Linked DNA regions of Homo sapiens. The protein of the gene in region 1 purifies or fractionates together with the protein of each later gene. This does not show direct contact. Each region holds a gene or a part of one and is shown on either strand. Other genes may lie near its edges. The genes, in order: ASAP1, P4HA2, EXOC6B and ARHGEF2.

Evidence for each region.
Region 2: the proteins of ASAP1 (region 1) and P4HA2 purify together in Homo sapiens (co-immunoprecipitation; one large-scale study listed by IntAct). This does not show direct contact.
Region 3: the proteins of ASAP1 (region 1) and EXOC6B fractionate together in Homo sapiens (co-fractionation; one large-scale study listed by BioGRID). This does not show direct contact.
Region 4: the proteins of ASAP1 (region 1) and ARHGEF2 purify together in Homo sapiens (affinity purification with western blotting, with the first as the bait; one study listed by BioGRID). This does not show direct contact.

The regions. Positions count from the first base shown.
Region 1 is NC_000008.11:130,111,447-130,115,897, forward strand, and holds part of ASAP1 (arf-GAP with SH3 domain, ANK repeat and PH domain-containing protein 1), read right to left. Parts: coding exon of another isoform or gene 4,386-4,451; exon of another isoform or gene 4,368-4,385; intron 4,290-4,367; coding exon 4,182-4,289; intron 877-4,181; coding exon 648-876; intron 1-647. UniProt on the Homo sapiens protein: Possesses phosphatidylinositol 4,5-bisphosphate-dependent GTPase-activating protein activity for ARF1 (ADP ribosylation factor 1) and ARF5 and a lesser activity towards ARF6.
Region 2 is NC_000005.10:132,203,326-132,207,776, forward strand, and holds part of P4HA2 (prolyl 4-hydroxylase subunit alpha-2 isoform 2 precursor), read right to left. Parts: coding exon 4,383-4,451; intron 828-4,382; coding exon 757-827; intron 523-756; coding exon 423-522; intron 1-422. UniProt on the Homo sapiens protein: Catalyzes the post-translational formation of 4-hydroxyproline in -Xaa-Pro-Gly- sequences in collagens and other proteins.
Region 3 is NC_000002.12:72,819,015-72,823,465, forward strand, and holds part of EXOC6B (exocyst complex component 6B), read right to left. Parts: intron 1-4,451. UniProt on the Homo sapiens protein: Component of the exocyst complex involved in the docking of exocytic vesicles with fusion sites on the plasma membrane.
Region 4 is NC_000001.11:155,971,097-155,975,547, reverse strand, and holds part of ARHGEF2 (rho guanine nucleotide exchange factor 2), read left to right. Parts: intron 1-4,451. UniProt on the Homo sapiens protein: Activates Rho-GTPases by promoting the exchange of GDP for GTP.

The DNA.
Region 1 (4,451 bases):
GAATCCCAGGCTGAGAACTACAGGCCAATTACTCAGTATCTCTGAACAAATCCCCTAATTCACATGATGCCAGTAACTGCATAATAGCACCTACCTCATTTTGAGATGATTACAAAAGAAGTACTAGGCGTAGAGCCTCTCATAAGGCAAGTGCTCCATAACTATTAACTACCACTATTATTACTAGCGTCTTCAAAAGAGTGGCATTTTAATGTAGAGAAAAGTAACTTTCCAGAGAACTGAAACTCCACTCCACATTATAAAAAGTACAGGTTCTGGAGCCACGTGGACCTCAGATTGAATCTCAACTTTACCTCTTACCAGTGGTGTGACCTTGGGCTGGTCAGTGTATCTCATTGAGCCTTAGTTTCCTCTTCTGTAAAATGGGCACAAAAGCACATACTTCACAGGATTGTTGTAAGGTTAACACAAATAATGCACAAAGAGAGCCCACAGCACTGCCTGTCCTGCTCTTGGTACCTGGCAAATGGCATGGTCCCTATTTCAAGCTGCTCCTGACAACACGATCCGCGCCACTCAAATGTACCTTGCAATTCTTACCTCAAAGCTGGCTAGACTATCAGCTCTGAGGATGGAGTCACAAGCCCTTCGAGGATGGAGTCACAAGCCCTTCTCAAAGCCCATACCTTTCCCGGCGTTCCTAGGAGGCAGAGGGGGAGCCTCCGTGGTTGGTGATGTGGGCGAGTCTGTGCTTGTGGAAACGAAGATCTGGTTGGTGAAGGCTCCATAGGAGAGCCGCTGTTTGTCCCTTGGAGTGCTGAATCCTGGCAGTGCCAGCTTGTCCTGGGGGGAGATGCTGGAGGAGTGGCAGAAGCTCTGAGGTCTGGGTGAGCGCTCTTTCTTGATAGGGCTTGGCTGGCAGATGAAATAAGAAGGTGAGATAATAATCAAGGACCACCCTTCATGTGTACAGAGGGCCTCCGCAGGGCGGGCTCAGGTGGGAATCTGGGTTCCTGTGGCTCTCTGAGCTTTATGAGGTCAGCCACAATGAGCCTCATGATGCTGACACAGTACAAGGGAAGGATCTAGATACCACACTTTCATATCGTTCACCACTATGAATAATCACACTAGTGAAACACTGGTTAGGATCAGCAGCAGTGTCAGAAGCACAGTAAGGTCACAGGTAGATTTAACTTTTAATAAGCAAACACCTTCAGAATGCAGGACTTTTTCAGCAACATTTGAATAGTATTTCCACCTATTTCTAATTTGCTACATTAAGTTTTGTTCCCTGCTCAACCCTTTAACGTTGAAGTTCTTTCTTTGCCTCTTTTCTCATTTTATATCCCCCTGCAAAGTAAACGGATTCACACCCACTGCCCGCTACACAATAATTACTTACAGATCTGTAAATACAACCCCAGTGACTTGTGTTCCAAACCAATGGCCCATGAGGTATCTCTGGTATTTGCGCTTGTGGTGATGGCATTAGGATCCACTCAACTGCCCAGGTTAGAAACCTCAGTGTCACCTGGAGTCCCTGGTTCCTGCATTCCCCTTGGAAATATCCCTTGAAGCCCCTCCTAGTACAGGTGCTCACCAGCTCCCACTGCAGCTCTAGCCTCCAGAATGGCCCCTTCTCCAGTTTCCTTCCTCCAGTCCATTCTCCACACTGCAGCCAGAGCTGGTGGGAAACCTTGCTCTTTAGACAATAAACCTCTGTGGGCTTCTGACTGCTTGCACAAAAACCCAAAGGCCAAACCTTGCCCACAAAGCCATCCTGATCTGGTTTGCCTGACTCTACAAGGCAGCTGCCTGCCTCTCCCCACCCAGCCAGGTGAATGCATCTCACACACAGTGCTTCTCTCCATTCCTCCGACATCCAGACTCTACCATGACTCCTTCCCTTGGCACGTGGTGTTCTGGAATGATGCATTCCACCCCACTTCTTTCCCTGGCAAGCTTCCACCTATCCTTAGAAACCCATCTCCAATGTCCTTGAGAAGGCAGACTGAGGCAGCTGCTTGGTCCTCTGAATAGCTCTCAGGAATTTTTCCATACTCTTATAATGATTATCACATTGTATTATAATTTATTTCCTCTTAAAGTTGTTAAGGCTTGAGGACCTCTTTGGCCATTCCTTACATCCTGCCTGTGATACAGGAAATGTCCAATACATAGGCAATCAATTAATGCATGAATGAACTTTCAGAGGTAGTTAACTGCTTATAAGGAAAACTCAGTGAGAACTGGGTTTAATCCTCCAAACTGTCTTTACTAGCTGGGAGACTTTAGACAAGTTGCTAAATTCTCTTTGTAAGTTTTCTCTTCTGTAAAATGGGGATAACAATGTCCCTTATGTACTTTTTTTTTTTTTTCCTCTGAGACAGGGTCTCACTCAGACACCCACACCCAGGCTGGAGTGCAATGGGACAATCTTGGCTCATCACAGCCTTGAGTTCCTGGGCTCAGGTGATTCTCCCACCTCTGCCTCCCGGGCAGCTGGGACCACAGGCGCACACCACCACGGCCAGCTAATTTTTGTATTTTTTGTAGAGAGAGGGTTTCGCCATGTTGCCCAGGCTGGTCTCAAGCTTCTGGGCTCAAGGCATCCACCCGTCTCACCCTCCCAAAGTGCTGGGATTACAGGTGTGAGCCACAGCACTCAGTTATGGACTTTCAATAAAGATGATCTGAGATAACGTAAGTGCTTAAATCTGTCTAATCCATATTTAATGAACATCATTCCTTAATGACAGGCATACATTCTGAGAAATGTGTTAGGTGATTTCGTTCTTGTGCGAACATCATAGAGTATACTTACACAAACCTAGATGGGAGAGCCTACTACACACCTAGGCTATATGGTATAGCCTATTGCTCCCAGGCTACAAACCTGTACAGCATGCTACTATACTAAACATTGTAAACAACTGTAACACAATGGTAATTACTTGTGTATCTAAACATAGAAGAGGTAAAATAAAAACATGTTATATAAGATTAAAAAATGGTACATCTATGTAGGACACTTTCCATAAATGGAGCTGGAAGGACTGGAAGCTGCTCTGGGTGTGAGTGAAGGCCTAGGACATTACTGTACATTTTTATACAACTCAGTGCAGTAGGTTGGTTTATACCAGCATCCCACAACCATTTGAGGAATGTGTTGCACTACCGTATTATGACATCTATGGCATCACTAGGTGATGGCTATTTTTCAGCTCCGTTTTAATCTTATATTGATCCCCATTGAGTATGCAGTGTGTTGTGGACTGAAATGTTATTATACAGTGCATGATTATGTTCAATAAATAACAACTGTTATTTACTTACTAATTACTTGTTTTGAAGGTTAATTTTTTTTTTTTTTTTTTTTAAGATATAGGGTCTTGCTCTGTCATTCAGGTCAAGAGTGCAGTAGTACAATCATAGCTCACTGCAGCCTCAAACTCCTGGGCTCAAGCAATCCTCCTGCCTCAGCTTGTCAAATAGCACCACCACGTTTTATTGATTGATCCATTTACTTTGTAGAGACAGGGTCTCACCATTTTGCTTAGGTTGCTCTCGAATTCCTGGTCTCAAGCGATAGTTCTGCCTTGGCCTCCCAAAGCGCTGGGATTATAGGCATGAGCCACCATGCCTAGCTTCATGGTTAATTTTATGTGTCAACAGGCTACAGTGTCCTGGTGTTTGGTCAAATACTAGTCTAGATGTTGCTGTAAAGGAATTTTTTAGATGCAATTACCATTTAAATGAGTAGATTTCGAGTCAAGGGAACTACCCTTCATGATGTGGGTGTGCCTCACCTAATCAGCCAAAGAAAGGCCTTAAAAAGACTGAGGTCCCCCAAAGGGTAAGGAATGCTGCCTCCAGACTGTCTTTAGCCTGAAGACTGCAACATTAACTCCTGCTGGGATTTCCAGCCTGCTGGCCTGCCCTGTGCATTTTGAACTTGACAGCTCCTTCAATCATGTGAGCCAATTCCTTAAAAAAAATTTCTCTGTCTCTCTCCCTATCCTGTTGGCTCTGTTTCTCTGGACAACCTTAATATAGCTGTTAAATGGTGCCCAATAAGGACTGAACAACATAAATGGCCCTGATACATTGGATCATAAAACCACAATCAATCAATCTCACCAAAAATGGATCTTGTCTACACAGACTAGAAAAGTTGGGGTAGTTGTTGAGAATTCGAGGACATAATTTACACTCACTTTGTCATCCAGATCATCATCGCTCTCATCTATCTCCTCCTGTCGAAGATTCCACTCATATTCTACGTGGACGTGTGGATTGAACTTTCCAGATTTAGCCTGGGAAAGCTGGAAGGAACAGCAAATGTGCACCATTTTAATTTAAATGCTGAAACATCCCAATATTATACAAACACTGAGCAAATCCCACCTTATTCCTAGTTTTCAATGAATCATCTGTAGGTGTACTATAGGCAACACTCTGCTTAGACAAGCTGCACTGCTATGTGA
Region 2 (4,451 bases), on another chromosome or scaffold:
TGTGGTTCAGCAGGAGAAAACACACAGAATACTTTGACCTTCAAATGTATTTGATTATGACACAGAACCATGGCCTCTGAAGTCATTTTTAGCTCTCTTAGAGATGTCCCTGAGACCATTCAGGATTTGAGCTTCTGTTGTCAAGAAGACATGAACGAACCTACCATAACTACCCCTGATCCCTAGCTTGCAGCACACTTGGGCACACAGCAGATGCTCAATAGATATTTGTTGAACACTAATTGTTGAAAGCCAGCAGGCATGATTAATTCTGGTTTCCTAAAATGAGATCACTCCATATTCATAGCATCAGGCAGTAGTCATACAGTTGGGCCTCTTGGCCCAGTTCTGGACACCCTGTGAGACCATCTAGCCACAAATACCCACTTCCCAACTCCTACAGTCCCAGGTACTATCTGTACCTGTAACAATTCTGCAGTCTTTACTGTTAACCCTGTGATATGCTGCATCCGACGATTTACTCGGGCCACAACAGGGTCATCATCTTCCTCTAGCCAGGAGCTGGGCAAAAAGAAAAGGGCAGAGAAAAGAAGACGGAAGGGCAGGCTTCCATGAGGTCCTGAACTCTGTCCCCAGAGTCAGGGCCAGCATGAACAGGCAGTACAGGATGCCTGCTGCAAGGGGGTGAGGAGGTGCCAGCAGGCAGGAAAAGGCAAGCCACCCATCCCTAGGGTAGGCACTGAGAAGTCCTGAAGTTGGGGCTTGAGCAGCTACGAACCCCTGCTCTTTGCTTACCTTTTGGAAACCCGGTAGCTGGCGACAGTGAGGACTCCTGTCTTGGGATCACGAACGGTGGCTCGTGCAAGCTAGAAGGAAGGAGGAGAGGGAAGACTTGATTTGTTTGTTTGTTTGTTTTGCCTTGAATATTTTCCCAGAGAGCACTGGGACCAGATTTACTGCCATGCTAGTGGAGGAAGCTTTGCAGCCAATGGCTCTAGCCAAGGCCCCAAGATCCTGCAGGCCAGTTGAGGGCAAGAGTCTGAGGCCTCCACATTCCCAATCCGCAATCAGTTCCTGGCTATTGCCCTGCTCGGTCACTGCTCATCCCTTCTCCTCCCCAGGTCCGCTTTGCCTGCAGAATTATGCCTGCCTTGTCTACCCATGCATCTGCCTGACTAGCCCCTTTCCTTGCCAGGCCCACATACCACCCCTGCCTGAGCACAGCCTGCCTGAGCTTAGCTACTCCCACCATTTTCAGACTGTGCCACCATGCCTGAGCCTCCGCCTTATGTACTTCTCTCAATTGAGTCAAGTTCCACCATCCTTCCGAACCTCAGTGGGCTCCTCTGCCAAGAAACCCATCCAAACACTCTCCTGCTGCACCACCTCACACTGGGTTCCCACAGCCTCAAGAAGCAAAGACAGATGGCACAGTTTTCGCTCCCTTGGGATCCTTACAAGTCAGATGATAAAACCAGGAAAAGATTCTGTAAGTTAAAATAAGTGAACCACTGCCTGGAAGCCACCCACTCATACAGGTACACACTACACATGCACTCCCTGCATCTACTTCATCTCCCCCAGCCTCCACAGTTAGGCTTAGTGAAACCCCAAGGGGGACTCGCCGCCCAGAGCCAGCCAACATGGCAAAGGTCCATGTGCTTCAGCTGTGGACTGTCCTCATGACCTCACATGGGTGGGGCCATAGGCCCAGGTACTCCCACCCCAACACACTTCCCCTTGATTTCAATAAATATTGATGAGTGCCTACTTTGTGCCTGGCACTATGCTAGGTAACTGAGACATGGCCCCTGCACTCTTACAACTCAGTCAAGTGGGGAAAGCAGAAAACCAGTCAGGTAACTGCAGCACAGCATGGGTGAACTTACCATCCTGTGGAAGCTCAGGGTATAGTGTCAAGAATAGCTTCCTAGGGGAGGAGACCACCTAGCTGAGGCCTGAAGGGTTAACATGAGTTATCCAAGTAGAGGAACATTACAGGAACAGGGAAAGAGCAGCAATCCAGAGGCCTGGGAATGAAAATGGGTGTTGCAGTAGGTGTGGATTAAAGGTTATGGGAAGTAGTAAGAGAGAACAGGCTGAAGAGACAAGCAGGGGCTAGGAACTAGATGCAACCTTGTGGCCAACGAGAAATGGGGAAGGCTTTATGCAGGGGAGGGACACTCAAAATGTGAATGTAAAATGGATCACTGTGAATACCTCATGGAGAGTTGACTAATGAGGGGCCAGAGTGGGGACTGGGAGGCTAGTGAGGCCACGACAGAGGTCAGGGCAAGAGATGATGGTGGCCCGGGCCAGGTGGTGGCAGAAGGGATGGAGAGGAGTAGATGGACCAGAAGGCTAGTAAGGGGGTGAGATGGACCAACTTGGACACTGTGCTGCTATGGCATGATCTGGTAAGATGGCCAGCACAAGCAGGACAGACGGCTCCCAAGCTCCTACTCATGGCCCTTCCTGAGCTTCAGCTCATGTCAGTCCCTCCCTGAAAACTGCAGCCACAGCCAGACCCCATCCAAACATCTGTGCCTCAGCATTGGCCTGACACCCACAAAGAGGCTCTGAGCAGCTGTGCTCTGCCCCAGGGGAAGCACAGGGCTATTTTGAAAGCAGGCCAGAGACCCCACAGACAGCTGCCAGGCATTCCCCACAGGCCAAGTTAAGCTCATTGGCTCTACTTCAAAGCCAGAATAGCATCTGTCCCTCACAGTCTCCGGAAAGGAGGGGTCAGCTTATCTTTGAATAGAAGCCATGTTAAGAGCCAAACATGTTTGCCAACCTTGTTTGGCTCTTTGCATGGCTTCTATTCAAATATATCTTTTCCTAACACTACCCTCTGGCCAGCCACACACATGTGTACACATATGCACACATGCACAGAGAAATGTTCTCAGTGTCTGGAACTGAAGAACGGGTAAGAAATCTCTCAGGAAATCCTGGCACAACCAACAAAGTAGTTTTCTTTCCTGGAGGACTCTGGAGCTGAGTAGAAAGGGGAGTCCTAGTCCCCATTCTCCATATATCTGGCTAGCCCCCTTCCTCAGCCACATCGATGATGCCAACCACTGACTCAAAGCCCTAGATGTCCTAGTACCTCAAGCCAAAGCTGTTCCAAGATGAGGTCCAGGGGCCAGGATAGGAACCTATTTCAGGTCTCTCCATGAGTGTCGGGCCTCCTGGTCACCTCGGCCCCTACAATTCTATTAGGAGCAGAGCAATAGAGAATCGAGCTAAATCCTCCCTCCCAATCATCAGTGATGGGATATGGCAGCAAATAGGTCTCTTTGAAAGATGTCAAATGGGGAACAAATCTTTTATGAACTAGAAACAGAAGAATAATTTTAAAACATGGCATATATACAAAACCAACAGCCAACTGCATTCTTAGCAGTAAAATACCATAGGAATTTCCAGGAAATTCAGGAATGAGACAAGGATGCCTATTCTACGTAATTATGCTCTAGAAGTTCTGGGCAATTCAATAAGGTTATAAAAACAAAGGAACTACAAGTATCAGGAGAAAATAAAATTTTCCTTATTTCCAGGTGTTAATGCTATCCAGGCAACCAAAGAGAAATCAGCTAAAAACCAAAAAAGAAATAAGTAAATTCAACCACTAGCTGCAATCTGTATGAGTTTGCTTTTTCATAGGTAAAACAGAGACAGTGACATCATTATGAGCAGCTGTTCATAACTGTGACATAACACTTAATATATATGTTAAGCACTTAGAAGTTCCTGCCACAGTTAAGAATTCAGTAAACATTAGCTCTTACTATGAAATGTATTTGTAAAATCAATAGTTTGGCATATAATAGTAAACTAATAAAATAATGTAACCAGTTAAAAATAATAATGAAGAAATAAAGTAAATTAACAGTAACAAAGAAACTACCAAGGAATAAACTTAAGAAATGTTCAAGGCTTATATGAAGAAAACTTAAAAAGATATGGAGAGACCTGTCATGCCCTTGGATGAGAAGACCCAATATTATAAAGATATACATTCTCCTCTAAGTCATTCACCTCATTTACAGTCCTAATCAGGAGCTCCACAGGACCCAGCTTCATAGCATCCTATGGAACATTTCCAAAAAACTCACCCACGCACCAGTCTCCCAACCAGGTGAACTGACACACCAGTGTAGACCTGCCCTGTTCCCAGCGTGACCTTCTATGATAGCACTTGGCTGTCCACATTGGTTACCCTGTTCTTCTTCCACTGGACCATGAACTCACAAGGTCAGGCTGAGTCTGAAGCATCTCTGTATCCCCACGGTAGGCCCATGCTAGATATGGATAAAGGGTGGCTAGATGGGCAAACCAACCACCCATAGTGCTAGGGATGAGAAAAAGGACCTTCCCCCTTCAGTGACCCGAGAAGGACCTACAGTGACACCTACTTTAGGTTTTGCGATCTCCTTGATCCTCTCGATTTCCTCATCAGACATGACATCGTAGTACCTGACGAT
Region 3 (4,451 bases), on another chromosome or scaffold:
AGCTCAATAAGGATAGGGACTTGTCTATATTGCTGCCTGCTGTACCCCAGAGCCTGGAAGAGTATCTGGCACATAGACATTGCTCAATATTGAATGAATATATGAATGAATCAATTCATTAATAAAGCCACTAAAGTGACATCATTATAATGTATAAACCTGTATATAACATGTTAACTGAAAAAGCAAGACACATAATAATCATCTAATATTTAATATAATAACATGCATATAAAAAAGTTAAGAGGAAATATAAAAATATAAAAGTGGTGGAAAGGTAATAGAATTAAGTTATTTGTTGTTGTTTCTTCTTAAGTCATTCTATTACATTTATAATTAAAATATAAAAATGTCATTTTTAAAAGGGCACTACTATTAAAAAATAAGCATGAGCAATGGGAATGTTCTTCCCCTCAGTGATTGTCAAGGACGGAGTATATCACAATCACCTGAAGGGCTTTTATATATTTATTTCCTATCTCCTCCTCCTTTCTCTGCTCCACCCCAAAATAACCCCTCCCAGGATTGATTATTGATAAGTATTATATCCCTTAGATATGTGGGACCAGGAAAAGGAAACAAAAAAAATAGGCTAACCACTAAACTAACAAAACTCAAAAAATAGAAATACTTAAGTCCACATAGCAAACCCAAGGGTAAAGGTGGAAGATGACTCACACTTGAGTGACCAATGCCTAGCAGGTACCATGGCACCCCATCTACATTGGAGGAAGAGTATGAAAAGAAAAAAGAGAGAGAGAGAGAGAAAGCATCATTCATGCTACCTGCTAGGCAGTAGTCCTAGCTTGGTACCTTGCATTGTACCATGAAGGATGCTTTATCTTCATTTTTCTAATCACTTTTTAGATGAGAAAAAATTGCCCACTTGGGTGGTAAGTTGCTTATAAAAATAAATTGATTTAATTTATTAAAGAGAGCCATGGACCTATAATGAGAAAGTGTCACGAACCAAGGATTATGATTAACTGATCTCTGTAAAGATGAATTAATGGGAGAGGGTGCTGGATGGAAAAATAAGAGCCATGTGGTCAAAGGCACAGAAGTAGTAAGTGGATGCCACATCCCCATATTCACTTATCAAATGACCTTAAATAAAACAGCCTTTTGAAAATATCCCCCTCAATTTGTTTCTTGTTTATAAAGAGCTAGCTTTATAAACAAACAACTTAAAAAAGCAAGACAGAAAATTATTCCTACACCCATAAGTAAAGCTTTGTAATAATAAAATATATAAGGCAAAGTTCTAGAAGGAAAAGCACCAAAACAACAGCAGCTGTGTTATAGAATTGTAAGCAATTTTTAATCTAGTTTCCAAATTCCATATGTTGACATACTGTTTTAACAGTGAAAAAGGTAACTGTATCATTAATATACTTTATGTTACATAAGACTGAGTAGTATGACACAAAATAATTCCAGAAGACAATAATCAGTCCCTAAAGTTATTTACCAAGATCAAATATAGGAATCAAATCATTCTTATGATACAGGAATTGAGCCAAAAAGAGAAAAACTTTCGCTGAAAACTAGAGCAAACTTCCCTGGGTGAGAATACTAAATGAAGGAAGTTAGGCTAGCTAGCAAAAATCACATAAACTCAATAACAGGGTTTTCAATGTTACATTTCTGCCACAAATAAGGAACATAAATCATGATAAGGAGATCAAAATAAATCAACCAGGAATCTGGGTTTTTTAAAAAATAAAAAAAGCAGTCAACAAATGGTGTTGGAACAACTGGATATCCACATGCTAAAGAATGAAACTGGACACTCCTCCTTACATTGTAAACAAAAATTAACTCAAAATGAATCACAGATCTAAATGTAAAAGATAAAATTATATAACACTTAGAAAAAATATAGGAGCAAATCTTCATGATCATGCATTACGCAAAAGTTTCCTAAATATAACATCAAAAGCATGAAACAAAATAAGAAAAAAAATGATAACTGGAATTAATTTAAATTAAAAACTTTTGTGCAGCAAAAGCTAAGAACATGAAAGATATCAAAAAATGGAAAAGACAAATCACAGAATAGGATATAGTATTACAAATCATATATCTGATAACAGGACATATTCAGAATACATAGAGAACTCCTACAACTCAACCAAAAAAAGAAAAGCAAATAACCCAATTTAAAAACGGGCAAAGGATCCAAAAGGGATAAACAATGACCAATAAGCACATGAAAAGAACAGCTATTACGGGAATGCAAATCAAAACTACAATGAAATGCAACTTCACACCCACAAGGATGGCAAAGTAAAAAAGATGATAACAAGTGTTGACAAGGATGTGGAAAAATTGGAACCCTGATACATTGCTACAGGAATGTAAAATGGCGCATGCACTTTGGAAAAACAGTCTAGCAGTTCCTCATAATGTTAAACATAGAGTTACCTTACAGCCTAGAAATTCCACTCCTAGGTACATACTCAACAAAAATGAAAACATATGTCTCTACAAAAACTAGTATACAAATGGCCATGGCAGCATTGTTCCACAGCCCCAAAATGGAAACAACCCAAATGTCCATCAACTGATGAACAAATAAAATGTGGTATATCCACACAATGGAATATTATTCATCGATAAAAAGAAATTAAGTACTGATACATGCTACCACATAGATGAACCTTGAAAACATTCAGTTACCAAAAAAACCCATATTGTTTGATTCCATTTATACAAAATGTCCCGATGTCCAGAACAGCCAAACCCATGAAGAAAAGTAGTGATTGCCTAGGGAGAGAGAGGGAACAGAATGGAGAGACCACTAATGGGTACAAGGTTTCTTTTTGAGTAATGAAAATTTTCTAAAATTAGGTTGTGGTGATTGCTGCACAACTCTGCGAATATACATACCCAAAACCATTTAATTGTATACTTTAAATGGGTAAATTGTATGATACATGAATTATATCTCAATATAGTTGTTTTTTAATGGCAATGTATTTCAATATTAAATTTTAAGTTTGAAAACAAAATCTTAAACAACAATTAGACTGAATGTTAATTGCTATTACCCAGAGTACCAAGTGAAGAAATGACTTCTACTGAGTAAGTGATATAAAGGAAAAGTAGAGATATAGGGATGGGATTTGAAAAATGAAAACAGGGAGCTATTGTTCATAAATGATTTGTCATCAAAATTTTAGTATTTATAACACAAAGCAGGAATGAACATTATTTTAAAAACAGGACAGGCAGGCTTTAACATCTTACAGGCCTCTTTCCAAAATTAGGACTCACAGATAACAAAATAATTTTTAAGGTAAAGACAAAGAGAGAGATAGCTACTTTCCCAAAAGAGTTTGCTAGGCAACACCCTCTTTATGTGTGGATATGCTTGGGCCTTTCAGAATTACAATGAAAAAGAAGAGGTGGTATATCCTTATGATAGATGGGAATCTACCAACATTGCATGTACAGCTCAAAACTAAAGTAATAACAGTAATATAATGAAAAAGTCAAGCCACTGTGACTCCTCAAACAAAAAGGAGTAAGACTGGAAAAAATAATCCGTATCATAGCAAAGAAAGAAAGCAAGTAATGATACACAAATAATAGCTGGCAAAGGAAAGAGTCTGGTTAGGCAATACAGCCAAGTGGATTTTTTTGAAGAGCAGGTATTTTAGGGATATACTAATCTAATATCTGCTCTCAATTTACTTTCTGTGTTCGTTAGTTTCTCTTCAGCTAGAAAACCCATCTCACGAACAGTTAAGAATCTGGTGCCTTTACAATGTTACCTCAAAAGATGAAGAAAGAGGAAAGACATACTATGAAGAAGAAAAGTTCGAGGTTTACAACTGAGAGTAGTTAAGGCAAGAGAGCTACTGCCTTAATCAAACCTGTTTCATGATAGTGATGAAAAACAGGAGATAATGACAATAGAGGCACATCCCAAGTAAGGCATGGGATCTGAAACATCAAGTCTGTGCATGCTGCTGCCTCTGAACGGGATAAGGAAAAAAGGTGAGATCATCCCCTATGAATATGGGTAGGGACAGCTAGACTAAAGACAAAGGCAGTGGGTACTCCTTGTATTATAGGATATTCAAGTGAATGAACCCTGGGTCTGACAGTAAGACTCAGTGTAATCTGCTAAAAAAAAAAAAAAAAAAAAAGTTGAGATCAAAAATGATGAGCCCATAATAATCATATAGGAAGTCAAGAAAAGCAAGTAAAACTGGTAATGAGTCTCAAACTTTCTTTTTTTTACAGTGTCCCCTTAGGGCAAAAGACCTCTTAATCCATCTATCTACACAAAACCCCACTTTTCAGTGAAAAAACTCAGTAACAACAATGAAACAAGTTTTAGGGAGACTGGGTAACTTATATTTAAACCGTAATGTATATACAGTTGACCCTCTGTATCTGCAGGTTCAACCAACTTCTCAAATCAAAGTTTTAAGAAAAAA
Region 4 (4,451 bases), on another chromosome or scaffold:
GAGGCTTCTGGGGACATAGACAAAAATTCTAGGGGTCGTGGAGGTTAGGGAGAGAGTTGAGGGGGAGGGGAGAAGTGAGGATAGGGGAAGGGAGTCTAAAGCTTAGGGAAGTCACTGAGTGACTTGCAGGAGGTTAGATGGGGCCTAGAGAAGGACCTACTGAGGCCGACCAGAGGAGTTACAGTGGGGTCTGATCTTAGCCACTCTGGCTGTGGAATTTGACCTTGGAATCAAGGAGGGGACAGATGTGAATGTGTGCATCCCCTGTGTGCATGTTACTGGTGTGCTGGTGTGTCAGTGTGTCTGTCTGCCTGCCTGCCCTCCTATTCTGTACCCAGATGCTCTGGGCTACTGTTTTGAACAGTGGTCAGCAAAGTAGGGGGTTCGTGCTCTCTGGCCACGAGGAAGTAGCTTCATCCTTAGCTTCAGTTTCTGGTTGGAAATATCATCTAGGAGCTGAGTGAGCGGATTGGTTAGGATTTCTGAAGCTGGTAAGAGAAAAGGCTGAGAGGAGCTGGCTGGACCCTTCCGGGTTTGTTTATGTCTCTTTGGGAGAGGGTGGGGGTGGGGTTGCAGGCAGCAGCTGCCCCCCTCCCAACCCAGCCGGCCTGCCTTGTGCCAGGAGGGCAGGGAGTCCTGGCACAGCTATTGTTCACTTGCACAAATGCCTGTCTGTTTGCATCGCTTACCCCCCCTCTCTTTCTGCTTGTCTCTCTCTCCTGGCCTGACAGGTGTGGCCGCGTAGGGGGCAGGCTGGGTTCCAGGATGCTTGGGTCTCAGGGTCCCTAACCTGATTTATTCCTTGTGGCCCTTAGCAATCCTCTTCCGTTTCACCCGTACCCACTCCCATTGCCAGTGTCTCATCTTCATTCACTAAGCAAGCATTTATTAAGTGCCTTTGTGTGTGCAGTGATGTCTTTCTGTGTTGTTTCTGGCTTTGGCATTAGTGTTTCCACTTGGCTGCCTTCCCCTCTGCCTCCTGTCTTCATCTTGTCCCTGGAAGCTCATAAAGGAGCAGGGCCCGGCTGAGACCACCCCAAGCCCTCTTCTCAGTCCCACCCCCAGCAATCCCTCACCTCTTCATTTCCCAGCCCTATAGCTCCTCCTCCAGGACTCAGTGCCCTTCATAGCCAACGGCGCCTCTGCTGTACAGGGGCTGAGCCACAGGTGACTCGAATCCTGGTGGAATGCTCCACAGGCTCTCCGGTCACTATTACAGAGGGTGTGGACAGAGGTGTCACCATCTTGGGGAAGGGGCTGCTGCCAGGTACAGCTGGAGGAGAGGTGATTCTGAGTACTCTGTGACTCTCCCAGAAGTCTTGATTTGGACATACCTGAGAGAGAAGCAAAGGCAGCTGAGAGAGCTGGGCACAGTGGCTCGCACCTGTAATCCTAGCATTTTGGAAGACCAAGGCAGCTGGATCGCATGAGCTCAGGAATTTGAGACAAGCCTGGGCAACATAGTGAGACCTCATCTCTACAAAAACATTAAGTTTTTAAAATCTATTATTAAAAAAAAAAAAGTCAGATGAGAGCTTAGGGCTTGCTTGGAGAAGCTCTACCTCGCCTGGGTGGATCTGCCTGGCCTTGCTGCCTGCTGGGAGCCCAGGAAGCCAAAGTCCTAGCCTTGGCATTGCCTTCCCCTCCATGTACGTCACTGTTTCCTCATCCCTTATTCTGGGAGACAAAGTGGAGAGAAGAGGGGAGACTGTGTTTGCCTTTGAGCTTTTCAGTAGAGATCCACAATGCCCTCTGCCATTGCTCCCATCTTTCTTTCTTTTTTCTTTTCTTTTTTTTTTTTTGAGACAGAGTCTCGCTCTGTCACCCAGGCTGGAGTGCAGTGGCATGATCTTGGCTCACTGCAACCTCCACCTCCTGCGTTCAAGCAATTCTCCTGCCTCAGCCTCCTGAGTAGTTGGGATTACAGGTGCCCACCACCATACCCGGCCAATTTTTGTATTTTTAGTAGAGATGGGGTTTTGCCATGTTGGCCAGGCTGGTCTCAAACTCCTGATCTCAAGTGATCTGCCCGCCTCGGCCTCTCAAAGTGTTAGGATTATAGGCATGAGCCACTGCGCTCGGCCTGGCCCTGTCTTTCTTTCCCAAAAGTGACTGAGATCTGGGATGACAGTGGAAGGAAGTTTGGGGTTGGTCTTCTGACTTCCAGAGGAAACCCTCAGGGTCTAAACTCAAAGGAAATAGGAGAGAATGGCTTAGAGCCCTTCAGGAGGAGGGAGAAAAGAGAAACAAGAAGAGACAGAAGGTTCTAAAGCTCTGATAAGGAAGGAAGAGGGTTTCCAGAATAGGGGCCAGGGTGCTACTGAGACCCCATGTCTTGGTGTCCATACATCCTTCCTTGCTTCTTTGCTTCCTTCCTTTTCTTTCATTTTGAGACATGTATTGGGTGCCTATTGTATACCAGGTATTGTGCTAAGGGCTTTCATATTCTTTATTTATCCTTGATGTAGCAGTAGTGTGGATGAAGGTGTGTAGCAAGAAGAACTTCCCATGGGATTTGTGAGAAAGAGACAGAATGACTCTAGGTCTGAGCGTGGTGGCTCACACCTATAATTCTAGCACTTTGGGGAGGCTGGGGCAGGAGGATCACTTGATCCTAGGAGTTCGAGACCAGCCTGGGCAACATAGCAAGACGCTGTCTCTACAAAAAAAATTTAAAAATTAGGTGAGCATCATGATGCATGCCTGTGGTCCCAGCTATTTGGAGGGCTGAGGTGGAAGGATCACTTGAGCCCGGGAGGTCAAGGCTGCGGTGAGCCATGATCATGCCAATGTACTCCAGTCCAGGCAACAGAGTGAGACCCTGTCTCAAAAAAAAAAAGAAAAAAAAAAGTATCTAGATGCTGGAGAGCAAAGGACTGAACCAAGCAGGAAGGGCCTCTGAGCACTGGGGTGGGTGTTATGGATTGTGGAGTAATGGGCCCTTTTTCTTGGTGCATAGGTTGGGTCTTGGAGGTAAAGGGCTGTCCTACTTGGGCGTGGGTAAATGGGAGACCAATGTGATTATCTTAAGAATACCTGGAAAAGAGTAGGACAAAGAACCAAACAAGCCCACTCACTCCACCTCTGGAGCAGGCACCCCTGGTAAGCAGGCCCTATGTCCTTCCATCCTCAGAAGCCTGAGCCCTGGGGCGGGCACAGGCAACCTCCGGGACAATAGCACTAGGCAGTGCCAGGGTCGCTTGCTGCTGGGCAGTGCCCATGCTGGGATGTGCTGCTGCTGTGGCTGCTGCCCGCTGCTGGCCCACCTAGAGCAGGGGTCACTTCGAGAGAGGGTGAGTGTTGGGAGGTGGAGGAGGCAGGGCCCAGAGTACCAGGGCTGTCTGTGGAGCATTGATGCCAGAGAGAGGAAGGGCCACTAGAGACCCTGTTCTCTGGCTGCCCCAGTCTTCTCCCTCCCTTTGCCACTCCATCTGAGCTGGTCAGACAGATGAGTGTTTGTGGATGCCACAGGGGGAGGGTGGAGGGCAAAGGACAGAGGTCAGGTGTGGAAGAGAGTACTCGTAGCAGCACTGGGGCAGAGCTGCAGCACTGCCCATTCTGGAGTGACCCTGGTCCAGCCATGTTGTTTTTTTTAATACTATTTTCAGCTTGCTTGCTTTTACTTATGTGTGTATATATATATATGTATATATTTTTTTTTTTTATAGAGATGGGTCTCGCTGTGTTGCTCAGGTTGTTCTCAAACTCCTGGCCTCAAGCGATCCTCCCACCTCAGCCCCGCAAAGTGCTGGGATTACAGGTGTGAGCCACCTCACCGGCCTCTTGCTTTTAATTCAAATGTAATACATGCTCAAACTTTTGGTTTGAGTTATATAGAAGGCTGGGAGGGCAGGAGAGGAGGAGAAAAGGGAGAGTATATGGCAGTGGGAAGAGATTTTTGGACTTGGTGTTTGAGGTCCTGTGAGGTTATTATTCAAAGGTGAATTTGAACTTCTTTTTTTTTTTTTGAGACATAGTCTCACTCTGTGGCCCAGGCTGGAGTGCAGTGGCCCAATCTCAACCCACCACAACCTCCAACCTCCCCGGTTCAAGCAATTCTCCTGCCTCAGCCTCCCAAGTAGCTGGGATTACAGGTGCCTGCCACTACGCCCAGCTAATTTTTTGTATTTTTAGTAGAGATGGGGTTTCACCATGTTGGTCAGGCTGGTCTCGAACTCCTGACCTCAGGTAATCCACCCGCCTCGACCTCCCAAAGTGCTGGGATTGCAGGTGTGAGCCACTGCACCCAGCCTGAATTTGAACTTCTAAAGAGGTATAATTTGGTGCAAGATAGGTGGAGGTTAGACCAAAGGGAGCATTTTCTAGTGGTCCGGGTAGGTAGGTGCCAGAATAGAAAAAAGGAGGCCAGAACATTTTAGAGGTTTGAGTTAGAGGCTAGAGGCAGCTCAGCTTCCTGAATAAGCCTAGGTAGAGGAGCAGTTGGCCTGCGT